2 separate regions of the Homo sapiens genome follow, and region 1 is linked to region 2. Evidence: fine-mapped expression QTL. A gene starts in region 2. The other region holds a variant in brackets. All regions are shown on one strand. Distances are from middle to middle. Region 1 overlaps RORA (RAR related orphan receptor A). Region 2 holds the start of RORA-AS1 (RORA antisense RNA 1).

Evidence for each region. PIP is the estimated chance that this variant, and not a neighbour inherited with it, causes the effect.
Region 1: its variant is fine-mapped to the expression of RORA-AS1 in testis (GTEx, PIP above 0.99).

Annotation. Positions count from the first base shown.
Region 1 is chr15:60,527,788-60,533,175 of GRCh38, reverse strand. RORA (RAR related orphan receptor A) reads left to right here. Exons shown (of 11, transcript NM_134261.3): 3 at 1,325-1,410. The region is part of intron 3 of RORA-AS1 (RORA antisense RNA 1); the gene reads right to left. Among named protein-coding and RNA genes, the nearest start is that of RORA-AS1, 51 kb to the right of the region's middle. The variant G/A (reference allele first, on the strand shown) is at 3,117.
Region 2 is chr15:60,476,649-60,482,017 of GRCh38, reverse strand. It overlaps RORA-AS1 (RORA antisense RNA 1), which reads right to left and starts at 2,840. Exons shown (of 6, transcript NR_120342.1): 1 at 2,620-2,840. It overlaps ICE2 (interactor of little elongation complex ELL subunit 2), which reads left to right and starts at 2,876. Exons shown (of 16, transcript NM_024611.6): 1 at 2,876-3,015; 2 at 3,949-4,081. The coding sequence starts at 4,041. RefSeq lists enhancers at 3,075-3,602, 3,925-4,044.

The sequences.
Region 1 (5,388 bases), 51 kb before region 2:
TAGGCCCTGAGAAAGGGAGTTAGCAGTACACATGGTTTATAATGAGGTTAAATCCAATAGTTTCATGTGTGCTCTAAGTATCGAATGCAACATCACCTTAAATCCAAAGTAAGTGGTTGTGAAATCATCCCAGGATATGGGATTACATTAGAAGAAAGAGTGGGCTGTGTGTCTCTGTGTGGTACTTACACTATGTGACATATTCTTTGGACAAAGAAATTACTCTGTGTAAGGTCTGGGGCTAGGTAAGGGCTGTACAGAAATGAAATAGACTTGGGCACTTGCAGTTGTGTTTGTGTGTGTAACTCAGTAGGTAATCTAACATGATACCCAGTAGTGAAAACCATGGAAAATGAATTTAGCGTAATGACACATTCCAGGTAAACTGGTGACTGTTCCCATCCTGTCTATACAGCTCAGCATTGGTCTTTATTTCACATATAAATTCTATTTAATAGTTGATCTAAGGATTTTCTTTTGCCTAATTATTCCTTATTTTTTATCCTTAATTATGCTCTTTTTAACTCTGAGGTATAATGTGTTTGCTTAGAAATGTGCTTTGCCTTATTTGAGAACTTTGGTGTGATACATGTTATTTGCGGGTCTTCCAGCATGAGGCATCTTTAAGTAATCAGTTGGGTAGAAACACATGCCCTCTGTACCAGGAACTAAATTTCCAGTGTAAAGAACTCAGAAGCAACACATCCTATTTGTCAGGATTCATCATTATTAAATTCAAACAAGATATTAACTCTATGGTTGAAAGGTTCTGATTGTACACAAATGGACTAATTTTTAACACATGGCAACTGCGTTAATTTTTTAAAAGATAAGGAATTCTTATCATATGTAACTGATTAATATTTTGAATTGAATCATTTTCCTAACTAGACCTGACTTTTTAGAGTGTATTTTTCTCTAGCAGTCAAGCTGTAATGCTCAGCCAAGACAGATTTATGATCTTTTAAAAATAATGATAGAAAATGAGATTGGAGGAAACATTTCAGTATCTGCTTTGCTCTGAGGCCTAAACTGCGAACTCTCCAGTTCTTGAAGGCTTTGAAATGCTGATTCCAGTCTTCTTGTGGGTTCTTAAACACCTTCTCAAATGACCCATTTTAATAACCCGAAAGCTATTATATAACGAGCAGCCATAATTTAGTCCAGGGCTCTAGGGGGACCCTCACAGTTCAGCAATGAATAGTTAATGCAGTATAATGTTTAGCAGGTTATTAGTTTTCACTATACAAATGCTGATCAGGGAACGCTTTTATAAGGTGTTTAAAAGAAAATGTAATTAACTGGTTGCGTGCTTCTGTTGCAGCTCAAATTGAAATTATTCCATGCAAGATCTGTGGAGACAAATCATCAGGAATCCATTATGGTGTCATTACATGTGAAGGCTGCAAGGTAAGCCTTTTTAATTGTTGTTGTTTCTATTAATGTTTGTTAGAATATATCTTTGTGATTTGTATGTCTCCACTTATGTCTTAAAATTCAACTCCTTAGAATTTTGAATGATAAGAAATTACAGGATAGAAGAAATATTTTGGTGTTAAATTACAATTAAAGAAGTTATATATATTTTTACTCCTTCCTTCAAAATAATAGGAGATTACAAAAAGGTATTTGAGCATTGCTTGTTTATCACTTTCAACCCCAGAGTTGAACTCATGAGCAATCTCTGTGGCAATCTTTTTTAAAAAAGAGCTAACTCCAGACTTCTACAATGTCCCTGTCATAAGCTTATAAAAAGACATCTCCAGTAAGTTTAATTGGAATGTCACTGAGTTGAGTCTTATTGTTAGCACACATAATGTTAACACATCTGGCAAAATTGTGGGAAAGCTATCAGGAAGACCTGAGTTCCAGTCCTATTGCCTCCACTTGTCCATATTGTTTTGAATGTGTCTTAATCTCTTTGTCACTCAGTTGCTTCATTTTTAAAGTGGGTATAACACCTGATCTTTCTACTGGTTAGGACTATTCCAAGAATAGAAGGAGAACCTGTACATAAAAAAGTCCTTACAAACAGAAAAGTGCTATTTAACTCTAAATATTATCAGTATTATTTCTGCTATGACTATTTTATTATTTCTGACCTTGGTCATGGGGCAATGTGTACAGCACATGCATAATGTGCAGATGAGAAACAGAGATGTTTATCCCAATAATTCAAGACCCCCCAAGCCCAGATTACCTCTGTTATTCAAATCTCAATTTATTAAGATTTAAATCCTCATGCTTATATTGGAAGGGCCTCGAGACAGCTTACAGGATAAAACAGTGCAAAATAAACAGGAGAGAAGCTATTTAAACATGCAGGAGGCCTTTGAGACAGCCGATTGCTACAACCAGGCCTGAATCAGCCCTAAGGCTTTTTGAGGCTGAGGCAAAAAATAAAATCCACGAATTTGGTTAGCTTTCCTTTCATGAAATTAGAAAATACAATGTTGTAAAATACAAAATCACCTATAGACACAAATGACTACTGAGAGACTTCAAGGAAATTAACCTTATAATTTCCTTAATTCTTCATTTTACTGTTAGTCATGGTAACATTTGCTAATTTGTACATGTACAGATGCTTCATGTTGATCCCATCTTAGCAAAGCTTCAGATTTCCGCATACTACAGAACCATCTATGCCCTTTACTTCCAAAATCTGCCCTCCCTCAAAATTAGTTGACTAATTAAATAAATTAAGCAAAATGAGAGGCCCGGTGTAGTGGTGTGTACCTGTAGTCCCAGCTACTCAGGGAAGACAGCTGCAGGTTTATCACTTGAGTCCAGGAGTTCAAGGTTACAGTGAGCTATGATCACACCACTGGACTCCAGCCTGGGCAATGGAGTGAGACCCTCTCTCCAAAAAAGTAAATAAAAATAATGAAAAAACAAAATGAAATAATCTGTCTGGTCTGTGCCATCCCAGGTTATAAGGTGAGAGTGATCTGCCTGTGACCACTGTCATCGCATTGATTTTTGGAGCTGATTTGGCTGACGTGGCCAGGTAGCCATTGCTTTTCACCCTCACCCTGTCTTGTGTTCTGCCTCCCAAATCTGTGTCCCTGGTAGACATGTCATGGCCTTTCTCAATAGAGGGTTTATAGACTGCA[G/A]TGCTTGCCTGCTGGGAGTTCCAGTGCTTTTTGTGCATTGCGTATCACCTGGGTGTCTTCTTAAATGGACAGGGTTCTAGGCAGCATCCCGGATACCAGTTCACCATTTGTCCCTTCATTCTGCCCAAAAAACTGATGGCTTCCTCTGAATCTGTCAGTAAGGCAAGTGATTATCTAGGAATTGACAGAAGTGATTATCTAGGAATGGAGTCTGGGGAAAGGACAAGGTGGGGGTAGGGGCTACTTCATATGAAATACCCCAACAATTTGGAAGATTAATTAACAACATGCTATTGAGTAAAACCTAAGTTGACTGAGTACCATGGCACAAACAATGTGAATTTTCTTTTTACTCTTAATATTTATCATGACAAAAATAAAAGCGATAAGAAAACAAAAGGTATCTATTATTCCAAAGTTGCCATTTTTCTAGATTCCCTTCCAGATCTTGTCTGCATACCTCCTCAGTGCCAAAGTGGTTTTCAGTTATCTGTGGCTCTGTTCCTCTGCTCTGTTGACTTTATCCAATGAAAACCACAAAATAAATAAAACATAATTTTATTAACAGATTGGGCCTATGCCTAGCCAGGGACTTGAACAATGTTTCATGTTTATATTTGATACATATACTCTTTGTTCTCCATTATAATTTCTCTCTGCTATAACTAACACTTTTATTCCTAGTTATAAAAATAGAAGTCAAAAGACTTCTATTTTTGCCATTTTATGTTAATTATTTATCATGTTCTAACCAGGTAAAGGTGGTTCTATCATGATCAATTGTAAATAACTTTGCTGAGATAGTGTAATTAAACATAAGAAAAATTTCACATTAGACATATCAAATAGATATCTAATGAGAGAAGAAAGGTGATCAGTCATCTTCTGAGCTAATCATTTTGTGAACGTATTTTAAATTGCATTTTTAAATTAACAAGCTGACACCATAAGAAACTAGAGGACCTGTTTAATTGCTGAAATAATTATTTTGGCACATAGTTGCTAAGCATTGCACATGAACAGCAAAAATGGTAGAAGCTTTAGTAGCTCTTTCTGTCATTTCTGGCTCTTCCTAGTTCATCCTCTCCCCAACCCCTTTGCTGTCTGTAGAGAGACAGCAGGTGCCATGCTTCTGCTCTGACTCTGGAACCAGACTGCCCGAGTTGAAATCCCAGCTCTGCTATTTACCAGCTTGAGCACCTATACCACTGCTCTGTGCCTCAGTTCCCCCATCTGTAAAATGAGGACTGTAATTGTAATAACTTCATAGGGTTGTCACATGCATTTAAGGAAAGTACCTGGAAGAATGCCAGATGCATCACAAGCACTTACTAAGTGTTAGCTGTTGTTATCATTGTCATTACTAGGCAGACTTCTTGGTGGCTTGGTAATGCTGCTCTGTATAGTCAGATATTATTTCTGGGACATCTATGGATATAGTCTTGATTGTTGTGACCATTTGCAATGTGTTATGTAGAATCTGCCAATAAAAAAGAATACTATGAGCACTCCCTTGGGACCAAGCACTATGTAAGCACTGTAAGGGATCCAAAGACATAGAAGACCACATCTTTCCCTCAAGCAGTTTATGGTCTAGTTGTAGAGATGAGGCCTGTGTAGGGAAAGCTAAATAGCAATGCAAGAACTAATATAGAGTAAGGCCACAATCTATGATATACATAAGAAGCACATATAGGCTGGGCACAGTGGCTCACACCTGTAGCCCCAGCAGTTTGGGAGGCTGAGCTGAGAGGAAGATGTGAGCACAAGAGTTCAAGACCAGCCTGAGCAACACAGCAAGACTCTGTCTCTACAAAAAAATTAAAAATAAAAAAAACTGGCTAGGCATGGTGGTGTTTGCCTGAAGTCCCAACTACTCGGAAGGCTGAAGCAGGAGGATTGCTTGAGCCCAGGAGTTCAAGGCTCCTGGTGAGCTATGATGGTGCCACTGCATTCCAGCCTGGCAACAGAGCAAGACCCCTGTCTCAAAAAAAAAGAAAAAAGAAGCACATATCCACTAGACAGCATACCTAGGTGGTCTAAAGGAGAGTTGGCCTAGCAAGGTTTCATTGAGGAGGAACCAACCGTGGGCTGGAGCTGAGGAAGGATTTTCCCAGTCAAGGTGGCTGGGAGGGCATTCTGTGCTGAGGAAGAAGGAGAACAAGGAATGGCAGAGGCAAAAGCCCAGAAAAAGGGCAGTCTTGGTTGTATTTAGGGGACAGCACATAACTCAGTTTGATTGAAGCAAAGGGTCACTTTCTGTGGCTAGTGG
Region 2 (5,369 bases):
AGATGCACAATGCACACGTTGGCAAGAATTATGAGACCTGAGTTTTAGTATCAGTTTTATCATTGATCATGTGATGTTGGAAAAGTCACTTGACAATCTTGAAACGAGCCCATTTCCTTGTAAGGAAAACAAGAGGGTTGGACTAGATAATCTCCAAATCGTGTTCTGATTCTAAAAATTCTGATTCTGTGTGCTATCTTGCAACCATTGAAACTCAGATATACCAGTTCAGAGCATACTGTTTGGTGATGATCTGAAATCTCAACACAGAGCTGTATGGTAATGCTACCATATCACACTACCATGGGCAGGTACCTCCCAGCAGCATGAGCTCTTAAACAATTAGAGCAGTTCCTTCAGGCCAGGTCAGGTGTCCCCAACTCTTCCTGACTGCATGCTTTGTGAGACAGTACCCAACACATGAACTTTTACGCTGCCTTTGTCCTACACAAGCCATCCACATCACTTACCTAATAAGAAATACTATCTGCAGCCAGGCATGGTGGCTCACGCCTGTAATCCCAGCATTTTGGGAGGCCGAGGTGGGCGGATCACGAGATCAGGAGTTCAAGACCAGCCTAACCAACATGGTGAAACCCTGTCTCTACTAAAAATACAAAAATTAGCCGGGCGTGGTGGTATGCACCTGTTATCCCAGCTACTCAGGAGGCTGAGGCAGGAGAATCGCTTGAACCCGAGAGGCAGAGGTTGCAGTGAGCCAAGATCGCCCCACTATACTCCAGCCTGGGCGACAGAGGGAGACTCCATCTCAAAAAAAAAAAAAAAAAGAAAAGAAAAGAAAAAAGAAAAAGAAAAAAAGAAATGCTATCTGCACAGTGCCAGGCATTGTAGTGGTTGATTTTTTTAAGCATTCACAAACACTGTCTCCTAACTGGCCTCCTCCCTTCAATGAATTCCGTAGGTTGCCAGGTGAACTTTCCTGAAGCACAGCCAGCCAGTTCTGATTGTGTCATTATGTAAGCTTTTTTGTTTGTTTGTTTCCTAGCATTTTATTTCTTATGCAATAAAGTCAAACTTCCTTAGTCTGGCTTATAAAATCTTACGTGTTCTAGCTTCAACCAGTTTTTCCAACCCCTTTTCCTCTACTACTCTTCAGAGACCTTGCATTCCAGGCAAAATAAACTACCTATGGTTTCCTGTAGCATATTTTTTACATTAACATAATTTCTAACAATATTCTAAATCAGTCTAAAATGTCAGCCAGGGGTAGTGGCTCACACCTGTAATCCCAGCACTTAGGGAGGCCAAGGTGGGCAGATCACTTGAGGTCAAGAGTTAAAGATCACCCTGGCAAACCCCATCTCTACTAAAAAAAAAATACAAAAATTAGCCAAGTGTGGTGGCATGCACTTGTAGTCCCAGCTACTAGGGAGACTGACGCAGGAGAATCGCTTGAACCCAGGTGGCAGAAGTTGCAGTGAGCTGAGATCACACCACTGCACTCCAGTCTGGGAGACTCTGTCTTAAAATAAAATGTAGAACATGCTTCCCTAATAGCACACACTAGATTCTGTTTATGCAATAAGTTTATGCAGTTCCTTGTATTAAAAAAAATTATAGGAGGCCATTGTTTAGAACTTCTGCACTAGACCCCAAGAGACCAGACTAAAATAAAAATGGTATCACTCAGGCTCACCACACCGAAACTGAGTTATGTGGCCCTCCAAGAAATCAGGAGACAGAGGTAACAGGCCAGTTTCAATTTTCAATCAGCAAGATAATGAATTTCCTCTGTTTTAGTCCCTACAGCAAAGAGTAACTTGAAGTAACCTGATGTTAACCAATCAGTTATCTTTCTATTGTACTGTCTGTCTCCACCTTACCAGGAAAGTAACTTTGAAATGATCAATCTGCTTTTTGTTCTTTGTTTCTACTTTCTACAGACCTTTTTTCTGTCCGTAATGCCAACCTCCTCTGTTCCACTCATTGGGACACTCATTCCATTTTATGGAATGAAGTGTTGCCTGATTCCAGAATCGCAATAAGGCCAACTGAGATCTTTAGATGTGTCAAATTTTTGTCTTTTGACACTTGTGCTGGTCTGTCTAGAACGCCCTTTCTCTTCATTCCACATACCCACATTCTTCAAATGAGCTCACACGGCAGGTGCTCAGTGCAGCAACTGACATGTAAGTACTCAATACTATTCAAAACTGCGTTTTGTCCCTCACACTAGCTATTCCTCTCCCTCTAACCTCAATCTATACACCTTTCTTATGTAGTTTATTACTTTCTATTGTATTTAATGTAAATGTCTTAGATTGCCAGAGATCCAAAGCACTGGAAAAATCAGTATTCAGTCTTAGTCCATGTGTACCCAGCACCAAGCACAAAGTACTCTGTTTACGGTCAATAAATCTTTCCGTAATGGATGAGAACAAAACTAGTGTTTGAACTCACAGCTAAAACTGGATGGGGAGTGGAGCGGAGGTGAAGGAGCACTTAATGAGGCCCTACTATGTGCCAGGTACTGTGCAGAGCACAGCTTCTTCCTTTGTTTCATTTAATCCTTTCCAAAAAACCGTATGATGCAGCAGTAACAATTTCATCTCCATTTTACATATGAGGAGTTTGGGTTACGGAAGTCAGGAAACTTGCCTGAGGTCACAACCAAGTATGTTTGGGTCTTTCCAGTACCGCACTTGTCGCTTGTCCGCCTTCCAATTTATCACTCCCCTCCTCTCCCCGACGAAGGTCGAGGACTTTCTAGGAAAACACGCAGTCTCCAACCACTTCCGCCTGGCGAGCCCAGTCTCGCACTTCGCTGCCAGAACCACAGCGAGCGCTTGTGGCGGGAGGAAAGGAGGGGAGCAGCCGTCAAGACGCAAGGCCCCGCCCACTATGTCGCTGAGACGTCATCACGCAGGGCCGAGTCGGCGCGGCCACATCCTTTAAATATGGTCTTTTTTGGGCGCGCGCGACAATGTGAGGAGTGGGGTGGAGCGTGTGTGGTGTGTGGCTGCGGCCTGGGCAAGAGCCGCCGCGGACCATGAGGTGGGCGGAAAGGCTGTGTTGCAGCCCAGACGCGGACGGGAGGGCGCTGCCGGGCCAGCGGGCGTGCTCATGCAGGGGCGGGAGGAGGGAACATGGCGGCCGGGCCAGGACCCTTTGCTCCTGGCTCTGCGCGGCTCCTACCCCTGCTTTGCTTGCCCTTTTACCTGCTTTTCTGGAACCTTGTTTCCCCTCTCTTTGCGTCCCCTTTCCCTCAGCCGTTTCTTTTGCCTTCCTCGACTATTCCCCCCCAGCTCCACACTGGGTCGAAGTGTGAGAGGTAGATTAAGTGGGAGCCGGTCGGGCCCGTTCGGTGTCGAGAGACCGACTCCTAAATTTGATTAGGTTCTCGCAGGTCACTTTATCAGTCTGCCTGGGGTCACAGGAGAAGTACTGAACATGAGAGATCAAGCCTGATTTGTAGTCCTGATGATGTCTGTAAGTGATCTTGTGAAATGTCACTTAAGTTGACCTCAAGTCTTCTCAAATGTGAGGTTCTTTGTGAAAGGCCTAAGATTCCTGATATCGAGGTAGCTTTTGTCATAAAGTGCCTGCCAGAATCTGCCCCATAACAAAGCATGGTCGGGAAAACAAAAGATTTATTTTGGCAGTAAGGGAATGGAAAACTGAGTTGACTTCCCGTTCCATGCCATCAAGTGGCCTAGTATGTAAGCAATGAGAACACCGTTCTGTTTCAGCTCTTATTTCCATAGTGAGTGTCCTGAGAGTAACACTCCCGGCGTAGATTAAATGGAAAAGGGCTCGTCCTGTATCGTCATTGCTGCTCTGCTACAAAGAACCTTGGGTCTGCTGTATTCTGTTTTAGGTGCCACAGTCTGTTGAGGGTAGATGTTTAGGGAGAGATTCTTCCTCACCTAATAGCACCTGGCCTAGCCAATCACTTGCTTTTGATCTTGGCCTTTTGTTTTTACTCAGCTGAGTAAGTTCTGGAGGGATCCTGCCTCTTGGAGCCTTCGCAGCCAGGCAGCTGTGAACTGTGAGCTAGAGTGAAGCAGAAATCTAGGAAGATGAGCTCCAAGATGGTCATAAGTGAACCAGGACTGAATTGGTGAGTTGTAGCCACTTTGTAATCCACTGAAGAGGAGTGTAGTGGGGCTGATGGTTGACATAAGAAAATAGATTTCTGGCATAGAGAGATTTGGAGGAAACAGAAAATACAAGTTTAGGGTCTCAGAATTTACCCTATCCTCATCTTCACATACGGAATGCTAGAGTTATGGCTGACTGTACTTCCACTCCTATAGTGGAACAACACAGTTCAGCACTCAAATTATTTTTAGGTATAATTCCCTCAGGTATTTATTGTTGGTCTCCTGTGAAGGAGAGATACTGGAATTTTCTTGAGTCCAAGAACCTTGGCCCATTTCCATACAAGTAATAAAAAAGACCCTCTTTAAGAATAGACATGCTTTTTGTTATATTGAAATCTATATCAAATGATATAAATGCATAGACTGTATTTTAAAAGTGTATGAGAACTTTGCAAATAGAGAACCTGGTTAAATAATATAGTGGTTTTGTAGCCATCTAGCTAATACATGTGCTGCTTTAGTTCATTTTAACACACATTTACTAAGCCAGCCAAGGAGGATCAAATGTTATAAATGGTTACAAAGAGTATTAAAATAGTACCTGACTCAGACTATTAAGTCAGTATGTTCATTGAGTATTTGTTTATTGCTAACAACACTCCCATCCCCAGGGAGCTCACAATCCCTGAGACCCTTTACTTTGTTTTTATATGATGTGCAGAAACTTAAGAATTTATTGAGATGTCACAGATACAATACCACGACAAGGTAATAAGAAACTATACTGATGCATAGCAAATAAGACTTTCTAATTTTACCATTAATACCTTAATATAGTTTTTTGGATAAATGCCTTTAAGAACAGTTTAAAAAGGAGAAGAGTATGGAGCAAATATGCTAGAATTTCCTATCTGGGCACTAGGACACCCAGAAGTTACCATTTGATTAGGTAAGAGGTATGCACATTTGCATTCCTTGCCAGTGCTATAAAGTATGCATTCAGATGTAGCACAGATGCTCTTGTATACCACCGGCATTGTGGAACTAGTTGTGGTTTAGAACCTTTGCACAATATTGTAGCCCTTGGAATTATCCTTTTCCACGGAATTTTACTGACCTTTGTCCTCCCTAGTAACGTTAATGGATTCAGTGTTTTCAAGTTTTTAATTCCTTCATTCAAACAGCATTTTTGGATGCCTAACTATATGGAAAGCATTGAATATAATATGTTAGTCTCTAAATTAATTATGGTGTTATGAAAAATCATATCACCTTTGAGGTGGTTTTAGCAAACCAGTTATCCCA